Homo sapiens: one gene and its partners. The protein of the gene in region 1 interacts with the protein of each later gene in a pairwise test. Each region holds a gene or a part of one and is shown on either strand. Other genes may lie near its edges.

What was found.
Region 2: the proteins of PXT1 (region 1) and ABCD1 come close enough for resonance energy transfer, tested with the Homo sapiens proteins (one large-scale study listed by BioGRID).
Region 3: the proteins of PXT1 (region 1) and ALDH3A2 come close enough for resonance energy transfer, tested with the Homo sapiens proteins (one large-scale study listed by BioGRID).

The regions. Positions count from the first base shown.
Region 1 is NC_000006.12:36,390,848-36,394,500, reverse strand, and holds part of PXT1 (peroxisomal testis-specific protein 1), read left to right. Parts: intron 1-2,626; coding exon 2,627-2,731; 3' UTR 2,732-3,653.
Region 2 is NC_000023.11:153,734,735-153,738,387, forward strand, and holds part of ABCD1 (ATP-binding cassette sub-family D member 1), read left to right. Parts: intron 1-117; exon of another isoform or gene 118-1,377; coding exon 1,378-1,520; exon of another isoform or gene 1,521-1,610; coding exon 1,611-1,779; exon of another isoform or gene 1,780-1,877; coding exon of another isoform or gene 1,878-2,177; exon of another isoform or gene 2,178-2,422; coding exon 2,423-2,517; exon of another isoform or gene 2,518-3,653. UniProt on the Homo sapiens protein: ATP-dependent transporter of the ATP-binding cassette (ABC) family involved in the transport of very long chain fatty acid (VLCFA)-CoA from the cytosol to the peroxisome lumen.
Region 3 is NC_000017.11:19,675,383-19,678,208, forward strand, and holds the end of ALDH3A2 (aldehyde dehydrogenase family 3 member A2), read left to right. Parts: intron 1-175; coding exon 176-190; coding exon of another isoform or gene 191-243; 3' UTR 244-2,214; downstream 2,215-2,826.

The DNA of each region.
Region 1 (3,653 bases):
CTCTTTATTTAACTCACCTCGAATTAGCCTAATTTGGGTGTGCCATCTGTTTCCTCTGGGAATCTGACTGATATCATAATGCATAGGGAATTTCTCAGTTTGTTAGAAAGAAGGGAGGGAAACAAACATTTATTAAAACATTTTTTCCAGGTACTGTTTGAGACACTTCTACATGTTTCATTTAATTCCCCCAATAACCCTATGAATTACTGTCATAGGTATTTCAGGAGAAGCAATGGAGTTTCAGAGAGATTACAAAACTTATCAAAGGTCACTTAGCTTCTAAGTGGCAAAACTAGAATTTAAATATATGAGCATCTGACTCAGTGTTCTATACTTTTTCTTGTCTGCCATGCTGAAAGGAAACTCATTCCGTTTTCCTAGCTGATATCGACTATAAGAGGGGGAGAAAAATCCTTTAATGATTTTCGGTTACTAGCAGGACAAAGTCTAAGTTCCTTAGCCTACTGCTAATGGTTTTTCATTCCTTCCTGAATTCATTTCTTCAACTTATATTGAGCACCTGCTGTATGTCAGGCTCTGTTTAAGTACCGGAGATATGGGAGTGATCAAAGAGACAATATTACTGATCTCACGGAGTTTTTAAGGGAGACAAACAGTATCTACACAAATAAAGTATGTAGTTTATCAGATAGAGATACATGCTTTGGAGAAAAATAAAGCAAGGAAAGGGATAAGGAGTGTTGGGGTTTGCAATTTTAAGTAGAGATGTTAAGGGAAGGCCTCATTGAGAAGGTGACTTTTTTTTTTTTTTGAGGCATAGTCTCACTCTGTCATCCAGGCTAGAATGCCATGGCACAAAGTTGTCACCGCAACCTCTGCTCCCAGGTGCAAGCAATTATCATGCCTCAGCCTCCCGAGTAGCTGGGATTACAGGCATGCACCACCACACCTGGCTATTTTTGTATTTTTAGTAGAGGGGGTGTTTCACCATGTTGGTCAGGCTGGTCTCAAACTCCTGGGCTCAAGTGATCCACCAGCCTTGGCCTCCCAAAGTGCTTACAGGCATGAGCCACCAAGAAGGTGACTTCTGAGGAAAACCTTGAAAGAAGTGTGGGACTGAGCTGTGGATATTGGGGAGGAGGCAGAGGATTGGAGGCAGGAGGACAGCAAAGCGCTTGGGGCAGGAGTGCATCTCGTGTGTTTGAAGAATGGCAAGGAGGCCAGTGTGGCTGAAGCTGAGTGAGGGAGAAGGTCATAAAAGATATGGTCAGGGCCAGGCGTAGTGGCTCACGCCTGTAATCCCGGCACTTTGGGAGGCCGGATCACTTGAGGTCGGGAGTTCGAGACTAGGCTGACCAACATGGAGAAACCCTGTCTCTACTAAAAATACAAAAAAAATTAGCCGGGCTTGGTGGTGCATGCCTGTAATCCCGGCTACTCGGGAGGCTGAGGCAGGAGAATCACTTGAACCTGGGAGGTGGAGGTTGTGGTGAGCCGAGATCGTGTCATTGCACTCCAGCCTGGTCAACAAGAGCGAAATTCTGTCTCAAAAAAAAAAAAGATATGGTCAGAAGGGTGGGTGGTGGGCAGATTAGGTAGGGCCTTGAGGTCACTGCAAGGACTTTTTTTCTAAGTGAGGTGGTGCCATCGGAGGGCACTGAGCAGAGAAGCCGCATTTCAACAGTCCACAGAGGGGGCTGTGCTGAGAACAGACTGCAGGGGGCAGGCGGGGGAGCATTTGTGTCTGACCCATGGTCTTCTTTTTCTGATGTTCCGACATAAACAGTTGTTACTTTCTGCTCCAAAATACTTAATATTCACCTCACCTCTTTGCCCATCTAAGTCCTAGACATTATTAATTATTATTATTATTATTGAGACAGGATCTCCCTCTGTTGCCCAGGCTGGAGTGCTGTGGCACAATCACAGCTCACTGCAGCCTCAACTTCCCAGGCTCAGGTGATCCTCCCACCTCAGCCTCCTGAGTAGCTGGGACTACAGGTGTGTGCCACCATGCCTGGCTCAGTTTTTCTAGAGATGAGGTTTCACCATGTTGCCTAGGCTGGTCTCAAATTCCTGAACTCAAGCCATTCACCTGCCTTGGCCTCCCAAAGTGCTGGGACTACAGGCAGGAGCCACCATGCCCAGTCTTCTCTCCATTCTTCTAGCCTCAAGGCAAACTTGCTCACCTCTTTGAAAGAACTAAGAAAGTGTTTTGGGAATCCAGGGGAATAGGTTATCAGCCCTGAAAAGAGTGCCCCAATTTACTGATGAGCCCCAGTTTGTTGAGACCAGCCAAGGCAACATAGTGAGACCCTGTCTGCACAAAATATTTTTAAAAATTAGCCAGACATGGTGGCATGCATCTGTGGTCCTAGCTACTGGGGAGGCCGAGGTGGGAGAATCACTTGAGCCCAGGAGTTTGAGGCCAGGTGGGAAAGACGGTCAGATAGGAAAATATGTCCAGAGGCGTTGTGAGGATATGACCATATGGAAGGTACTGTCCTTCAGCTCATACAATTCATAAAGCAACCCAAGAAGCTTGTTTGCAGCATGGATTGAATTAATATTTTCCATTGTGTTGAATTTTTAACTTTGGATTATTCTATCACTTTTAAAAAAAAAAAAAAACCTTTCTCTGTGTCTCCCTTTTTTCAAATAGGATCTTCAACAGGATGGCAGAGATGCACTAGATCATTTTGTCTTCTTTTTCTTTAGAAGAGTTCAGGTGTTGCTGCATTTTTTCTGGAACAACCATTTGCTGTAAAAGGAAAGTAAAGGTCAAGTGGTCAAGTTCTGTTTTCTTTTTACCCTCTGAGAAACATGAATCCCACTGGGACAGATGGGAAGAACACCCTTCTCCGTCTCCCTCTTTTTGTACCCATCACTGTTGGTCTACACCCAGTTTGTTGAAGAACTGCGGGTTCACGAGCCATTTGTCTCTTCGGAGGAGCTAGCTATGAGATGTCTGCGATCACATCACGGTAAAGCCCAAGGAGTAATTAGGACCCCAGGAAGCCTTGCTGCCCAGAAAACACCAGCGCTGTGGATGGTCCCAGGGCTCCTTGTGAGGAAACCTTGAACATTTCCTTCCAGGAATGAAAGAGAACCTCGTCCTCAAACTAAAGGCCACAGAAATGGGCACTACCTCCTGGCCCACTCCCTGGGCACCATGCCCTCTGGTGACCTGTTGGCTCCACTCTTGTCACTCATGTCCAGATCTGCAGTGCCAGCTTCTCCTTCTCGGTGACATGTCACCTCCCTGCCCCAATCCTGGCTCCAACCCTCTCTGGAAAATCGAAGTGAAACATTTGTCTCTAATACTCAAATTCAACATATGGCTCATCTCATCTACCTTCCCATTTCCATGCCTAGAGGCCCCACTACTACCACTAGCACCGTTGGGTGTTTCCTTCTCAGGCTCTGATTCTACAACATTTACGTTCTTTTCTCACCTTTGATCCCCTCACTCCTCTGTGACCCCCTTCAAGTCTTCCTTCACCACTCCAGTGTTTTCCCATACCACTCGACCCTGCTCGAAGGTATCTTTCCCTGCTCTGTCATCCTCTTTTAGGCATGCCTGCTTAAAATCGGGAGTGCTTAGTCCTTGGCCAACAGTCCTGCCTTCTAGAAGAATGTAAGACCTGAAAGAGTTATGAATCTATCACTAGGCAAAAACTTCTCTTTTC
Region 2 (3,653 bases), on another chromosome or scaffold:
CCAGATGCCTACTGGTGCATTTAAAAATCAACGTTATTGAGACGTAATTAACATACTATACAATTCTTCCTTTTCCATGTACAGTTTAAATTCATTCACAGAGTTGTGCAGCCATCATCACTAACTCCAGAATGTTTTATTTTTATTTTATCCCCCAAAGAAACCCCAGACCCATGAACAGTCACTCCTCATTCCCTCTCTCCAGCCCCTGGCACCCACTCATCTGCTTCCTGTCTCTGTGGATTTGCCTATCTGGACATGTCCTAGAAATGGAATCATGTGCTCTGTGGCATTTTGTGACTAGCTTCCTTCACTGAGCATCATGGTTTCAAGATTCGTCCATGTCATAAGATGAATCAGTCCTTCATTCCTTTTCATGGCTGAATAATATTCCATTGTGTGCATAGACCACAATTTCTTTATCCATTCATCCCTTGATGGACATTTTGGGTTTCTTCATGTTTTGGCTATTGTGAATAACACTGCTGTGAACATCCATGGACAAGTCTCTATGTGTGCAGATATTTTCGTTTCTCCTGGGTGTGTAGCTAGGAGTAGAATTGCCAGGTCACATGGTAACTGGACGTTTCACTTTTTGAGGAGCTGCGAGACTGTTCTCCACAGTGGCTGCCCCATTTTACCTTCCCGCCAGCAGTGTTGGAGGGTTCCACCTTTTCATCGTGGCTAGCACTGGTTATCATCTCCTTTGTATTCTAGCCACCTAGTGGGTGTGAGGCAGTATCTCTTGGTGGTTTTGATTTGCATTTCCCTGATGACTAATGACGCTGAGCCTCTTTTGATGTGTTGAGTGGCCATTTGTATGTCTTCTTTGGAGAAATGTCTGTTCACGTCCTTCGCCCATGTGTGATCGGGTTATCTCTGTCGCTGAGTTGTAAAAGCTCTTTGTATATTCTGGATACTGCACCCTCATCAGATGTGTGGTTCACCAGTCCAGAGTTTTCTCCCAGTCTGTAGGTTGTCTTTTTCACTGTCTCGATATTGTCCTTTGGTGCACAAAAGTGTTGAGTTGAATGAGGTTCAGTTGATCTGTTTTTCTCTTGTTGCTCATGCTTTTGGTGTCCTAGTGAAGGAACTATTGCCATATCCAAGGTCGTGAAGTTTTATCCCATTTTCTTCTGAGAGTTTCATACTTTGGGCCACACTACACATCAGCCTGTGATGTGCTCTGGGTTGGTTTGTCTGTATGGTGTGAGGGGTCCCTCTCCTGCACATAGAGAGAAAGAGAGAGAGAGCTGGTTGCCCCGGCACCATTTGCAGAAGAGCCTCGCCTTTCTCTCCAGCGGCTCATTTTTGACTTTCCGCTGTCTCTGCCCTGCCCCTCCCCGCCCCGCCACCCACCCCTCTGGGGCTTTGCAGATGCAGAGGCCGTGAAGAAGGCAGCCTTGGAAAAGAAGGAGGAGGAGCTGGTGAGCGAGCGCACAGAAGCCTTCACTATTGCCCGCAACCTCCTGACAGCGGCTGCAGATGCCATTGAGCGGATCATGTCGTCGTACAAGGAGGTACCCCTGGCCCAGCCCCACCCTTGCCATCCTTGCCATGCTTCTCTCCCTGCAACTGGCAGGGGCTGAGCCAGGGTCACCCTCCCTCAGGTGACGGAGCTGGCTGGCTACACAGCCCGGGTGCACGAGATGTTCCAGGTATTTGAAGATGTTCAGCGCTGTCACTTCAAGAGGCCCAGGGAGCTAGAGGACGCTCAGGCGGGGTCTGGGACCATAGGCCGGTCTGGTGTCCGTGTGGAGGGCCCCCTGAAGATCCGAGGTAAGGCTGTCCCCTCCCTATGAGTGACCCCGCCCCTGCTGCTGCTGCAGGTGCTGACCTGCTGCCCCAGCTCCTCCTATTCCCGCTCCCTCACTCAGGGACCTCCATGTGCTTCTGGCCCATCCCAGTCCACCCAGGACGGGAGGGCTGCCGGGCAGGGTCTTTGAGGACTTCGGCCTGGTCGAGCTGGGCCCCTGGAGGGTTTCCTGCAGAGAGGTGCTGGTCCGCCCGCCTTCCTTCCCAGACAGTAGCTGCCGGCCACCGTACTGACTCGCCCTTTGAGGGCCTCAGCCTGGATTATTCATTCAAAACAAGGGGGATGTGGTCCCCTCACCCATGCAGGACAGCAAGAGAAAGTTCCAGTCAGTGTGCCAGCTGCTGGCTGCCACGGGAGGCAGGTGCTGCAGAAGGGAGTGGCGGCCCAGGGCACTGTATTAGACACTGGGGGAAGAGTTCAGCTTGTTGGAAGACCTGGCTGTGTTCCCTAGGGACCCTGGACCACAGGCTGCTGGTCAGGAACCAGCTGGCATGCTGCCAGGGATGGGAATGAGGGCGTGCAGCCAGGGGCACGCAGACTCCCCAGAATGCAGAGGGGTCGCCACCACTCCCTCTCCACCCCAGCCCCGCTGTGCTGTCTCTGCAGGCCAGGTGGTGGATGTGGAACAGGGGATCATCTGCGAGAACATCCCCATCGTCACGCCCTCAGGAGAGGTGGTGGTGGCCAGCCTCAACATCAGGGTAGGTCCAGCGGGGAGGGCGCCAGCCACGCACATATGCAAGCCTCAGCCCTTGGCTTCCCGCCTGTCTGTGCTGGCAACAGCCATTGTCCCTAGATGTACGTGGCAGGTGGGCCAAGGTCAAGGTGAGAGACCAACGTGTCTCTGACTGTTCATCCTGGGGCAACAGAGGCAGGGCTCATAAAAGAGACTAGTGATACCAGGATTGACCAAGGTTCACCCCGGCGTTCCTGGCCCTATCATCTGATGCCAACTCCCCACACTCCTAAGAAAGCCAAGACCCGGGTGGGGGGGCTCTGGTTCAAACCTTGCCGCTCGACCTCCCTCGGAAGGCCACAGCAAGGAATCCACAGATCACCTGTGTCCCCAGCCAGGGGTTTGGACAGGGCTGGGGAGTAATGGAGTGAGGGGGAGACTGGGGTGGAGGGACAGGTAGAGAAGTGACAAGGAATCACTCATTCATTCACTCATTTAACCAATGTGCCCTGAACTCTGAGCCGGGCACCAGAAACCCGAGGTAAATCAGGAGACCTGCACTCAGGGAGTCTTCACTGTGGAGGGGCACTAAAGTGTTACAAAGGGTCTCCAGGTAGACAGCTGTTCAAGGGACAGTGGGGGTCACAAGAAGAGTGGTCAGAGTCCCTGGGGGTGGTGGGGGTGGGATGAAGCCTTGCCCAGGAGTTGCTGTGAGCGAGTGGGCAGGCAGCTGAGGGTAGAGGAGTGAGGGGCCGTGGGCCTGAGGGGCAGGTCACGCAGGAGGAAGCAGAGAGGAGGGGCATGCCAGGGAGGAGGGGGCCGGCACAGGTGGTTACCCCTCACCGCTCGCAGCGGCCCCTCCTAGGATGTCGGGGGAGCTGATCACCAGTGAGTCCAAGGAAGGTGGTTTCCAGGCTGGCCCCGGGCAGCACAAGCAGGCAGGGGCAGCGGGCAAGCTCATGGGGCCCCTGCGCGCAGGGCCACATATGCTCAGGGAGCCGGGTATGCGAGATGGGGCAAGGCCCAGGCCCCACCCTTCAGGAGGGGACAGTCAGGTGGCTTCATTAGCATCCTGTGGCTGCGGTCACAAAGCGTTACAAACTTTGAGTGGCTTTCCCAGCAGAGATGGCCTCTCTCCCGGCTCGGGGAATAGCAGTCCGA
Region 3 (2,826 bases), on another chromosome or scaffold:
TAAACCGTGCTTCCTAGGCTTCCTAGGGATATGTAGTCCTTTTTTGTACAATGCATGTAGAGTCTCTTCAGACAGGAGGTGTCTGAGTCCCAGTGCTGAGCTTGTGTTGCAAGGCTGGTTGTGGGTAGGTTTTTAAAGCAGCTGAGTAAACTGAATCCTTTTTTCCTCTCTCCAGGCAGAATATTACTGAAGAATGATCCTGTTCAACCTCCTAGTGCCTCTACTGAATTATTCCTCTTTTAAATGGTTAATGAACCAATAATTTTTAAATCATACCAAAAATAGTAAGAAAATATGCAAACACTCTGTGATCAAACTTAAAAGTCATTGCCATTCATCATTAATAAAAGTTGCCATTTCAACTACGTCCCAACATTCCCTAATAGGGTATTCAGGGAACCTGTCTTAAATTGTGCTTATCTAAATCTTGGAACTTTGAGCTAGGGGAGGAGAATGTATTAGACTAAATACAAACTGCGGGGTTGTAAGGGAGTCTCAGAACCTCACTGAATCCTTCACTCCAGTTAATGGCACTGCTCACTTCCTGCCTCTGCTGCCACCATCACTGTGTGAAGCTTTCAAGAGCTTGGTACTTCCCAGGGCTACCGGCAGTCCTCTGTAGTCCAGAGAGGTGAGATTAGATCTTCTTGGTTCCCTGTGAGGTTTCAGGCACTAAAACTCTATGTGGGGAAGGGAGGGGTTACTCCTCCTCCAATGGGACTCAAGGACTTGACCTCCAGGAGTAGGCCCCTGGTCAGAAGTGCCATCTCACCAGTGGTCTTCATTCTTCCTCATTCATTCTTTATCATCCTGTGTTCTGTTTAGTTGCAACAATCTCTTGTGACTAATGTCACTCAAAGCATCTTGTAAATCCTAGGGCTTCCTGGAAGTTAGTTGCCAAAGTCATGCAAGCATCACCTGTCATTCTTGTGTTGGAGTTATAGAATTCTACATCTTATAAAACCTAACTGGCATTTAAAAAATACTGTGGCCGGGCGTGGTGGCTCATGCCTGTAATCCCAGCACTTTGGGAGGCCGAGGTGGGAGGATTGCTTGAGTCCAGGAATTTGAGACCAGCCTGGACAACACAGTGAGACCTCATCTCTATCAAAAAATAAAAATTAGCTAGATGTGGTGGCATGAGCCTGTGTTCCCAGCTGCTTAGGAGGCTGAAGCAGGAGGATTGATTGAGCCTGCGAGGCCAAGGCTGCAGCAGGCTGTGATTGCACCACTGCACTTCAGCTTGGGCAACAGAGCAAGACCCTGTCTCCGAAACAAATAAAAAATACTGTAATAAAAGTACTTATAAACATACTAATCCTCTTTCAGGACCCTAAAGTTGCAGGTTAGTAGGTCTTCAAGGACAAATCTGTAAGTTTCTTATTTCTGTAGTGCAAGTAAAATTTCACTTTTTGAAACTATAGAGAGATCCCTTTCTGATTAGCCTACAGAACTTAAAGTGAGGGAACCATTTCCTCTCACAGACAAAGAGGCCTGGGATATTAGGACTTTGGGGTTTGAGAGCATCATGGGGCAGACAGATGGTGGATGGTCTGGACAAGAAGCGAGTAAGCCACTGCGGTTGGTCATACTGAAGGGAATTGATGGCAAGAGGATCCCCTGAGCAAGTCAGAAGTTACTCTCATCAGTCGTTCATGGTCACAACCTGAGGTACTCTGCTGAGTGGGCAAGGCTGAAGAAGAGGCCTGTGGAATGCAGCATTACCTGCTGGACAGAGCAGGGCAGGCAGTTCTATGCCTTGGAGCTCCTGACTGCAGGGACTCTGTCCCCACACTCAAAAAGACTCAGCTCACTCAATGAGAGAATGTGATTTACTTTATAGAACGTATAATCAACTTTGTTGAATAATTTGTTCTATTAAGGCTGTCTAAAGTATGTGATGTCTTCATCATAGTATGAAGTGTTGAAAATTAATAACGAGCCTAGTTTAGGAAAAAGCTGCTTAAAACTGTGGCTCTAAGAGAGTAATCATAAAATACCTTAGATAAAATTGCACTATGGAATTTTCATTGAGTATGTTTAAATTATTGGCTTGTCTACTAATACACATCTGCTTCAAAATGAACATATTTCATAAAATTGGCATCAATTTTAATGACGCTCCTGGTATGGAACCTCAGATATACCCTATTGGAGACAATCCTTTGATCATAAATTCTCCCCAACTATAAATCATTTTATGTCTTTATCATAGATGGTATTTGTCAACTTTTTTTTTCTCATTTTAAAATTCTTAGCTGAGAAGATTTTCTCAAACTTTATGTTCTGCTGTGTGTGTTGGGGGTGGTGGTTAGTAGCTATAGTAAATAGGTTTTTCCAGTGGCATCCTCCTACCCCCAGTTGCTGATCTAGAACAAGTGTTTCTGTAAGCATATTTGTAGAACACTAATCCCGCAAGATTTTACACAAAAAAATGGTCCTGCCACCAGTCCTGTATACCACTGGCTTGTAAAGCACATCAGCAAACTAAAGGACCCAGGTCATTTGGAACCTCTGAAGTGCTAGTGTGTGCAGCTCCCAGACTTCCTTGACCGCGGAGCCGTTTACCTTAATACCTGTTAACCATGGACCACACTTGGGCAAACAGTGGCATAGAGTCTGGAATTGCTTCCATGATGACTTTGCTGTGCTCTGTTCCTACTTGTTTTGTGCCCTTATTTATATCATGTCACTACTAGAAGAAAAAGTTCAGTAAGAACAAGTATTTCTCAAAGTCTGTGATAAGTGAAAATGCTGATGGAATGAAAGAACTGTAGAAAAGGGGAAGAAGGGTGTATGGACAGCCACTGCCCTGGTCAGGGTCTC